Regions from separate parts of the Homo sapiens genome. Here region 2 is linked to region 1. The links come from fine-mapping of genetic effects on gene expression. Tissue or cell type: lung. Region 1 holds a variant in brackets; the other region holds the start of a gene. All regions are shown on one strand. Distances are between the middles of the regions.

The links. PIP is the estimated chance that this variant, and not a neighbour inherited with it, causes the effect. A credible set is the group of variants that fine-mapping cannot tell apart.
Region 2: it holds the start of NMUR2, and the variant in region 1 is the best candidate, but not a certain one, in a credible set for the expression of NMUR2 in lung (TOPMed, PIP 0.55).

The regions. Positions count from the first base shown.
Region 1 is chr5:152,494,188-152,499,582 of GRCh38, forward strand. It overlaps the pseudogene RPL36AP20. Among named protein-coding and RNA genes, the nearest start is that of NMUR2, 92 kb to the left of the region's middle. The variant G/A (reference allele first, on the strand shown) is at 2,714.
Region 2 is chr5:152,402,702-152,408,096 of GRCh38, forward strand. It overlaps NMUR2 (neuromedin U receptor 2), which reads right to left and starts at 2,578. Exons shown (of 4, transcript NM_020167.5): 1 at 1,687-2,578. The coding sequence starts at 2,412.

The DNA.
Region 1 (5,395 bases):
TTCAACCACTCAAGATTAAAAAGATTAAGGAAAAACACAAAAAATAACAATACAACAAAATACAAATAAAAATGCAAATAAACTATTTACCTAGCATTTACATTGTATTTGCTACAGACTTATTAGTAATCTAGAGGTAATTTAAAGTATAGCCATTTACTGCAAAATGACATTTCAGTCAACAGCTGACCATATATATACAATGGTGTTCTCTTAAGATTATAATACCATATTTGTACTATATCTTTGTTTAGATATGTTAAGATACACAAATACTTATTGTGGTACATTTGCCCACAGTATTTCATACAGTAACATGCTGTACAGTTTATAGCCTAGGAGAAATAGGCTATACCATGTAGACTAAGTGTGCAGGAGGTGAAACTATCTAGGTTTGTGTAAGTACACACTATGATGTTCACACAATGATGAAATCACCTAAGTATGCATTTCTCAGAACATATCCCTGTTGTTAAGCCATGTGTGATTATGTACGGGAGGATGTCTGTAGATTATATGCAAATACTATACCATTTTATGAGATACTTGAGCATTCATGAATTTGTTTAAGGTCTCCCTGTGTCTTTTTTCTTTCTTTCTTTAAGTTGATCAAATATTTTTTAGTGGACAATTTTATTGGCTTTTTAACTATACATCTTTATATTTTTGGTGGTTACCCTAGAGATTATAATATGCATTTTAACCTATTAGGTCTACTTAGGGTTAGTACTTTACCAATTAATGTAAAATACTAGAAATGTGCAACATCATAGTTCCATTTAACTATCCGTCCTTGAAGCTATTGATATTTATATTATACCTATTATTTACAGCTCTACTTATAGTGTTAAACTATTACAATTTTTAAAGTAGTTGTGTCTTTTAAATAAGGAAAAACAGAGACTCTTATTATTTACCCATGCATATCACTTTTGGTATTCTATACTAGTTTCTGGAGTCCTGAGTTTCAATCTGTTATCATTTTCCTTAATTTGAATAATGTTCTATAGTAGTTCTTGAATTTGAATAATGTTCTATAGTAGTTCTTGAAATCTGCTGGCAATAAATTCATGCAGTTTCTACTTCTCTGAAAATATCTTCATTTTACCCTTATCTTGAAGCTTATTTTCATTGGACACAGGTTTCTTTTGTCTTCTAGCCTCCTTTGTTTTTGATAAGAAATTAGCCATCATTCATATTGCTGGTAGTATGTCCTTTATCTTTTTTCACTGGCTGCTTTAACAATAGTCAGTTTATCTTTGGTTTTCAGAAGTTAGACTATGATATCCCTAGGTATGATTTTCTTTGTGATTATTCTGACTGGGATTTTCTCAGCTCATTGGGTCTGCTTGTTTGTTTTTCTTCCCCCAAGTTTGGGGACTATTTGGCTGCTTTTTTTCTTTTTCAATTTTTTCCCACCTTTTTTTATCTCTTCCTTACTCTGAGACTTCCATTCCACACACATGCACATACACTCTCTGAAGTGAACTCAATATTGTATTGTCTTCATAATAAAACAAAAGATGAAGTTTAGAACTGGATCATTTGGCTTTTTCTCTCATCTCTCCCTAATTTAAAATTCTTGCATTTCTTAATAGTCAGCATTCTCTTAGATCTGCATTTGGGCTCAACACATTTAAGCCTCATCACAATCTTCTTTGTAGTTTTACAGAGACTTTTCCAGAAAATCTGCTTGGTCTGCCCACCATAGCCTGCTCTGCTTCCTGTCAGAATGAAGCTAGGCATACCAAATTCCTTGATCTCCTTGTATTGTGTGTCTTCACGGTGTTGATGCTTGTCACATTTCTTTTAGGAATGTTCTCATGTTTTCTCAAGTACTACAGCCTGGGAGCTGTTGCATACATTTTAGAACACTTATTATTATCCCATAAGCCTCTGAGCTTCTGATTTATTTTCAGTCTTTATTCTCTCTGTTCTCCAGATTGGATAATTTCTACTAAGATCCAATCTACCTTCAGATACTAATCTACAGAAGATAATCTCTCTCTACATTCACTGATCTTTTTTTCCCCTTGTCTCCAGTACTCTTGTAACGCCTTTTCAAATAAATTTTCATGATATTTTACTCTTTGGCTGTGGAATTTTCATTTTTTTCTTTTGTTTAGCTTTCATTTTTCTGCCTAGTTTCCCTGCCTTCTTTATTCATTATGACATATTTGTCTTTACTTTTTGAAACATCGATTTAATATACCTTTTGAGTCCTTGTTTGCAAATTCCAACATCTTGAACATTTCAAGTTCAGTACCTATTGACTGCTTTTTCTCTTGACTGTGGATTACATGTTCTTTTGTGAGTTTACTAGTTTATTCTATACTACATGTTCTAAAGGAAACATGGTAGAGACTGTGATTCAGTTTTCTTCTAAAGGATGTTTGTTTTTTTTCTGATAGGCAGTCCACCTAAACACCAATTGTCTCTCTTGAAGTGGATGAAATCTGAGATCTCTGCTCAGTTCCTCCAGCCTCACAGATAATGTTTTACAGTCTGAAACTTGGAGTCCCCTGAATTTGTATTTACAGTTTAGCCAAGGATTTGACAGGTATTCAGATGTAGATTTAGGGGCTTCCTCCTTTTCTAAATTTTCCCCTTCACTTTCTAGCTATTTTGGCAGCTCTAAACTCTATGGCCTTACTTCCATTCCTATGCCTTTGACTTTCTTCCTGAATTCTTTCCATTCATTTTCCTGCAGATT[G/A]GGTAATGTCCACAGGTGCAAAGCTTACTACACCTGAATCTTATCCAGGGCAGTGCCCTTCCTTCAAAGGCCAACTTTCAATTTCATCTTGCTTTCAATGTTTCTTCAGGCCTTCAAAAAAACAGTTGTTTTTGTTGTATTTTCTGTTTTGTCTAGTGTTTATAAATCTTGTCTGTGAATGAATAAATTTGATAAAAGCTTCACTGCCATTACAGGAAGTAGATCATGGAAAAGTAGATTTTTCTAAGTGGAAAGATCAATGCTGTTAAGTCCAGATACAATATGAACCACATACGTAACTTGAAATTTACTAGTAGCCACATTAAAAAACAGTGAAAATACATAGAAAAAAATACGTTCTATTTAATTGAACATACCCAAATGTTACTGTTTCAACAAGTAATCATCGTAACATGAAGATATTTTCCATTGTTCTTAATATTTAATCTTTGAAATTTTGTGTATACATTTCACTTTTGGCAAAGCTCAATTCAGACACTAAATTTTTAATAGTTAAAGAGAAATGTACAATAATGTAGTTATGTTTAATTGAAAAATATTTTATATTGCTTCAGTTTTAAAACTTAAAATTGACTCAGTTAAAATATAAAAACTTAATTCCTCAGTTTTGGTAGCCACTTGTGAAGTAACCAGTAGCCATATGTGACTAATGGCTACCATACTGAGCAGGACAGGTCTAGATAATAAGAAAGGATTTCTATATTTTCACCCAGTGACATGATCTTAATATAAAGTGCAAGTATAATTTTATACAAATTAAAAGTAATTTATATATAAACACTTCCATTTGGAAAAAGAAAACTGTTTTTCAATATTTGCAAAGATGTGAAAAAGAATCCTAAACTTGCAAAAAAGATTTTTCTAATAGCAAAGCCAAATTGGTTTTCATAATTATACATCATTATGTGCAGAATTTGTCAACAAATTACTGTTTTTAATGGAACACATTGTTCATTCTTCTATGCACTTGTCCTTTTGGGATTCATATTTAATAACATCCTGGCTATAAAAGCTCACTAGTTTGCAAGTGTCCCTTTTTGTTGACTAATTATAATGATGATGTTGATTATTGAAAAAGTGGTCTTTTGGTATTATAGTCATAATTGTCTTGATAGAAGTGTGTCTCAATTGGCTTATGTAAAATTCCAGCTCTGTGAAATAGCACAATTCTCATAAATGATGATTGACTGGGTAGAAAATGTATCTATAAACTTAGAGCTTCCTTAGCACTCAATTTGGGATGGTAGTGCAGTGAGAGCCTATGTTATAATTCTAATGAGACTTCAAGTTACTTATAAGTTTTACTACCGTATCTGATTGACACTACTTGTGCTAAATTCCATCAGTGTCTAAACAAATGAAGAATATACATAACACTCAAAAATCAAAATCTAAAAATTACAGGATCATAAGGCAGGAAGCTTTGAATATGACAAAGCATAGTGATATCAATTTGCACCATATAGTGGGGCCCAAGTGCCATGCATATATAGTACATATGGTAAATGACATAAAGGCAGATGTAGAGGAAAAATGGATCTAAGAACAGTAATACTGTCTCTCTTCTTGATCTACTGGACCAAACAGGTATCAGGTAATTAAAGAAGAGAGAAATTTTCATTGTTCAGGGCAACTCAGTAGACCTTTGGGGCATGTGGTGTCAGATATTTCAAAGTTTCTTGAGCACTTACTATGTATCATGTAAGGGCGACATTCTTGGAATACTATCGTAGTTCCTACCCTCAAATAGATAAGAATCCAGTGGGCAAATTGCCAGGCAAAGTACTAAGAGTTTTACATTCATGACCTTATTTAATTCACTTAAAGACAAACAAAAATAAGATGGCCATTCTTCAGGGAAGAAAGTTGAGGCCTGAAATATTACTTCTTTAGGGTTACCTAAAATGCGTGTAGCAGGACTTGGATTTAAACACAGGTTTGACTCACTCCAGATGCCACACCATAGTCTTAGCCATCATTCATAGTACCTAAGAGAGGTCATCTCTGAACTGGCATTTCTTGGTTCTATATGAACAACCCCTGCCTACACACCAGGATATAATTCTTAGGAAATTTAAAAGCCTGGATATCCGTATTTTTGGCTCTGTTGCTCTAATGAGAAGAGAGATTATTTCTATCTGTTCACAAAACTTATTTCTGTCAGATGGCAATGTTGTACATTCTAGGTTCACAAGGATATTGTCCTAGATCTTATACCCTGGGGCTTCAGTAGCTTTTGAACTCGAAGGTGTGATCCAGGCTTTCAAGAGTGGGTTATCCTACTCCTTTGAATTTAAACAATAGGATCTGAACCTGGAAGCGTCCCTACATGATCTTTCCCAACCCTATTGTATTTCAGGCTTGGATAACAATTCTAAAGAGGTAGAAACTTGTTCAAGATCCGGGAGTCAGTGTCAGCCATTAGACTCAAACTTGCCTCTCAACTCCCAGGTCTTAGTATTTCCTCTGTATCAGACACCTTTTGTCTTTCAGAACCCCTTGCATACTCCAAAGTTTGGACCAAATATTGTTGTAGGACTTTCTCCTTAGTTCAGCTAAAGGCTGGGTTCTTGTCACACAGCCATGAAAGATTAGGCTTGCAGACACTTGGAAGGGTGAGAAGGGCAGCGTTTATTGGATGAAAAGGTATAAAAGAAAACA
Region 2 (5,395 bases), 91 kb before region 1:
GTATTTCTCATAAGACTTTCTTTGGAGTTGTATAGAAGTCTTTTCCCCGCAGTGAGATGTGCAGGACGTTCTTAAGACATGGCTGTGAGCTAGTGCGGGGTGGGACATGTCTCTGGGAATACAGGTGCTAGCCCTCCAGGAGGGGACTGGCACAGCTCTCTGCCTAATTAGATTTACTCTTGTGCCCAGATGTCCGTGACACTTAGAATTTGTTCTTCCTACTTAGACCTCGCTATTCACCTTAGGGACAATAGGTATTCAAAAGGACTACCATTGGGCACTCGCTTCTGACAATCGGCTTCTCAGAGATGGACTGAAATAGGAGTATATTAGTTGTCACATAAAGTGTGATGTCAGAGCCATCTCAAAGCAAATGATGTGAATGTGATATCTGTTTGTCCTGTCATTTAAAACTCACATTACTTCAGCTCACAGGTGTTTTTTTTTCTTTTTTTAAAGGAATAATAGACTGTTAGAGCTACAGGGGACATAGATAGGATCTGATGTGACCTTTTCATTTTATACACGGGAAAACTAATTCCAGGAGAATGATGTGGCTTGCCTAAAGGCATATTATATGTCAGCTGTAGATCTGGGAGTCTAAATGGTCTCGTAACTGTTTACTACACAAGCTATAATACCTCCCTTAAGTGGGTGTAAAATTGTCATTGTGAAGAACTTTTCTCTTCATGAATTTGGGTGCAGAATATACCAGAGAGGAATTATATAGACTAATTCCTACCCTTATTAAAAATAGTTTCTCTCAGCTAATTTAGACACCCCCCTTCTGAAAAAGAAATCAGTTTACCACCATAAACATAGGAAAAGAACCTCTAATTATATATGTTGCAAAATAAGTGATATCTTTTTCTTAATTTCAGATAAGCTCTTATTCACATTTTTTCACTCTATCTCATGTGCTGTTTACTTCCTTATCTCTCAATCTGCACCTGCTCAAAAGAAGCTCAAGTTATCTCAGTCATGTCATTAATATATATGATTATATATTATATATAACTATATATTATATATATGACTATATATTATATATGTAACTATACATATAATATATATAGTTTTATTTTGTTTTGTTTCAACCTCATTTTAATGAAAGGGTCGGAGCAACCACAGTAAATGTCTGATTTTAAAACTGAATACCTATCTTGGACTACAAAATAGGCAGGGATAGTTTGTGTTATACTCAGACCAAGTTGGTGTACAGGAAAATCTCAATGCAGGCAGTGGCCAGGGGCTGGAAAGTGACAACAGGATGTGGAGAAGTCTCTCAAAGTGTGGCCACCTCACCCCAGATCACCTGATGTGCTTATTTAAAATGAGGCTCCACCTCAGACCTTCTGAATCCCATTTTCCTGGGGGTGAGGTATGCATATTGCTCCCAAAGTAAGTTTTCTGCATGATTCTTAGGAACATTTAGATACGAGAACCCCAAGAATAGAGGGAAGAAAAATAGAAGACGAGCTAAAGGAAATGATAAATAGTTGTGGTTACCATTCATCTCATTTGAGGCAAGTCCTTTTAAGTCTCAATTTCCCATCTGAGCTCATTCTATTTTCCCTCTGTTCCCTTCCATTTCTGAATTTCCCCAATTCTAAGTTTTTCTCTGAACTTTGAGCCTGTGAAAAAAGAAGGGATGCTGCCTCAGGCCACCCCAGCCTAGATACTCACTCTGAGTGCCATGAGGTAGTAGAGGACACTGATGACAGTCATGGGGAGGAGGTAGAATAGGAAGGAGGTGACCTGGATGATGAAATTGTAGATCCACATGGGCTTGATGACCGTACAGGTGGCCGAACCTGGGACCAGGGACCCATTGGGGAAGTAGTGGAACTTGATGCCATGGATGCTGGTGTTGGGCAGGGAGAAGAGCACGGAGAAGCCCCAGACGATGCCGAGGATCCTGAGGGCCCGGCGCCGGGTGCTCTGCAGTTTGGCGCGGAACGGGTGTAGGATGGCCACGTAGCGCTCCACGCTGACGGTGGTGATGCTGAGGATGGAGGCGAAGCACACGGTCTCAAAGAGGGCCGTCTTGAAGTAGCAGCCCACGGGCCCGAACAAGAAAGGGTAGTTGCGCCACATCTCATAGACCTCCAGGGGCATTCCAAGGAGCAGGACCAGGAGGTCAGAGACCGCCAGGCTGAAGAGGTAGTAGTTGGTGGGCGTCTTCATAGCCTGGTGCTGCAGAATCACCAGGCACACCAGGACATTGCCAATGACCCCCACCACAAAAATTGGCACATACACCACAGACACGGGGAGGAAGAAGTGGCTGCGCCGAGGTCCGCAGAGGAAGGCCAGATACTCCTCGGTGCTGTTCAGGTGTTTCTGGAATGGATCTTCTAGTTTCTGCTGGTAGATCCAGGAAGCATTCTGAAGTTTTTCCATCCCTGACATTAAAATCCAAGGCCTGAGCCTCCCCTGGTACGAGGCTCTGTTTCAAGCTGAGCCAGGAAAAAAAAAAAAAAAAGAAAAAAGGAAAACAAAAAAGAGAAAGCAGTCACGAAAGTCACAGGCTTCGTAAGGAAGGCTGGGAGAGAGTGAGTGTTTCACCCTCCAGGTTAGGCTGCCTGGACCGCCGATCCCTTTTGAAGAGCCCCGGAGACACAAGCCCCTCCCCTTGACAGGCTGAGGGCCAATGAGAGTGTGTTAGGCTGCACTGGAGGAGAGGGGTGCTGGCTTCGAGTCAGGAAGCAGGGGAGGAGGCAGAGACCTCTCCCTGAATGGGAAGGAGCTGGGAAGGCAGAGCTGACACAAAAGAAGCCACTCGAACTTCATGGATGGGCACTTTGAGCAATGCAGGTTGCAAAGTTGTGGGAATCTGGGTAGACATAGAAATTAAAGTTGCAGGGCCATGGGCAAAAGAATACCAATCTCCACTAACCCTTGTCAGCCGTACAGCATGATGAAAATAGGAGATCAATAGATTTCTCAAGTTATCTTGTTCCACTGGAAATTCAGGGTTCTCTGGGGATTAATGTGATAACATGATTAATGTGACTTTTTGGTTTTAACTGCATCAACGATAGAATCCGAAGCCTGAAAGGGCGCATGCACAGTGCCTAGCCCTGACTGCTAACTGACTCTTCAGTCTCAGCAGAGCTTTGCTGTAAGCAAAAGGCAAATGGACTTCAGAATTAGGAACACTCATAGAAATTTAGGAAAGTTGGCACAGTTACCCAAACTCTTAGAGGCTTATTTCCTTATCTGCATCATTAATTCGATTGCGTTCCACAATAACTTCTTGAGGATTCACTATTTGCCAGGGAATGTTCTAAGCTTTGTAGAAACACTAGTGTACAAGCAAGACAAGGTCTCTGCCCTAGTGGAGCTTTTCTTGCAGTAGGGAATTCTGAAAACACACAAGCAAATGAATAAATTAATAATATAATTTCAGATAGTAATTGATAAATAATTATTTATCAAGGATGGTGAAAGAAAACTTATCTCAGGAGATGTCACTTTAGCTGAGGTCTGAATGATGAAGTCAGTCATGAAAGAGCTAAGGGAAGTGTATTACTCAGCAAAAGTAATAGCAAGTGCAAAGGTCCTGAGGCAGAAACAAGCTGGATAGGTTTTAAAAATATCAGGAAGACCAGAATAACTGGAATTTAATAAGTGGTCAGCAAAGTATGAATGCTTAGATTGAAGTGGCTGGCAGGTACAGGTTCATGTAAACTCTTATAGGCCATGGAAGAGAGTTTAGCTCTGATTCAAATGGCAGGGAGAAGTCTTTAAAAGATTTTGCACTGGAGAATTAACGAGGGAGAAATTTTAACAGAAGGTAGGTAAGAGGCTAGTAAGACATAGTAGTGGCTTGGATTCTATGAGCAGTGGAGTTGAGAGATTTCTTTGGATTTAGGAATATTTTTGCAGGAGATAATACCTTTTATGGTCATTGAGAAGACTAAATTAAATTATATATAACGAAGCAACTTATACTTAAGAGATGCTCACTAAATGTTAATTTTTTCCCTTTATTTGTTAAATCAGATTATGACGTTAAAAATTAGAGAGGGAAAGTGACTTGTCCAAGAATAAGTCATCTCTCAAGTTAAGATAGTTTACGCTGCTGTAACAAATGATTGACATATCTTGGTGGTTTTAAACAATACAGATTTATTTCTCTTGTACTTCAAATGTATTGAGGGTCTGTCTCATGCTATGCTCACTCATAAACCTAGGCTGATGCAGTGGTCACTCTCTGGAATTTTGATTATCATTGTGATAGAGGAAAAGAGAGCTCTGGATGGTCTTAAGTAGGTAATTATAGGCTCTAGCCCAAAAGTAAGTAACTCATTGCCAGTTTTTCTCACAGCTCATTGACCAAGGTTAATCATATGTACCCATTCGACTACAGCAGGGTCAGGAAGTGCTGTCTTAGCATGTGCACAGAAGATGGAAAAGTAGGAAAAATTGATCAATAACATTAATAATAATTACAGACATGTAATAGGTATTGCAGAGCCAGAATTAGGGCCCTCTAGTTAAAGGCAAGTTTTGATGTTAAAATCACTATTTACAAACTTTAACGTATTTTTCTAATGAAATAGGAAAAGTTTAATGAGAATATCTCATTTAGATGTAAGGATCGTTATAAGGGTGCACAGTGGCAGACTATAAACTTAGCGCTGAGGAAGATGGAAAATATTTCTTTCTTTAACAAAAATATTTTTCCATAAGTTACTGGGGTACAGGTGGTATTTGGTTACACAAGTAAGTTCTTTAGTAGAGATTTGTGAGAACCTGGTGCACCCATCACCCAAGCAGTATACACTGCACCATATTTGTTGTCTTTTATCCCTCACCTGCCTCCCTCTCTTCCCCTAAAGTCCCCAAAGTCCATTGTATCATTCTTATGCGTTTGCATCTTCACACCTTAGCTCCCACATATCAGTGAGAACATATGATGTTTGGTTGTCCATTCCTGAGTTACTCCACTTAGAATAATAGTCTTTAATCTCACCCAGGTCATTGCAAATGCTGTTAATTCATTCCTTTTTATGGCTGTGTAGTATTCATATATATGTATGGAAATATATTTATATATTATATATCCATATATGGATATATATTTATATATTATATTTATATTATATTATATTATATATTATATTATATTGTATATTATATATATTATATATAATATATATAAGATATATTATATATAATATTATATATAATATATATTATATAGTATTTATATATGATATATCCATATATATGGATATATAGGATATCCATATATGATATATCCATATATATCAATATATATCAGAGTTTCTTTATCCACTCACTGATTGATGGGCATTTAGGTTGGTTCCACAATTTTACTGTTGCGAATTGTGCTGCTATAAACAGGCATGTGCAAGTATTTTTT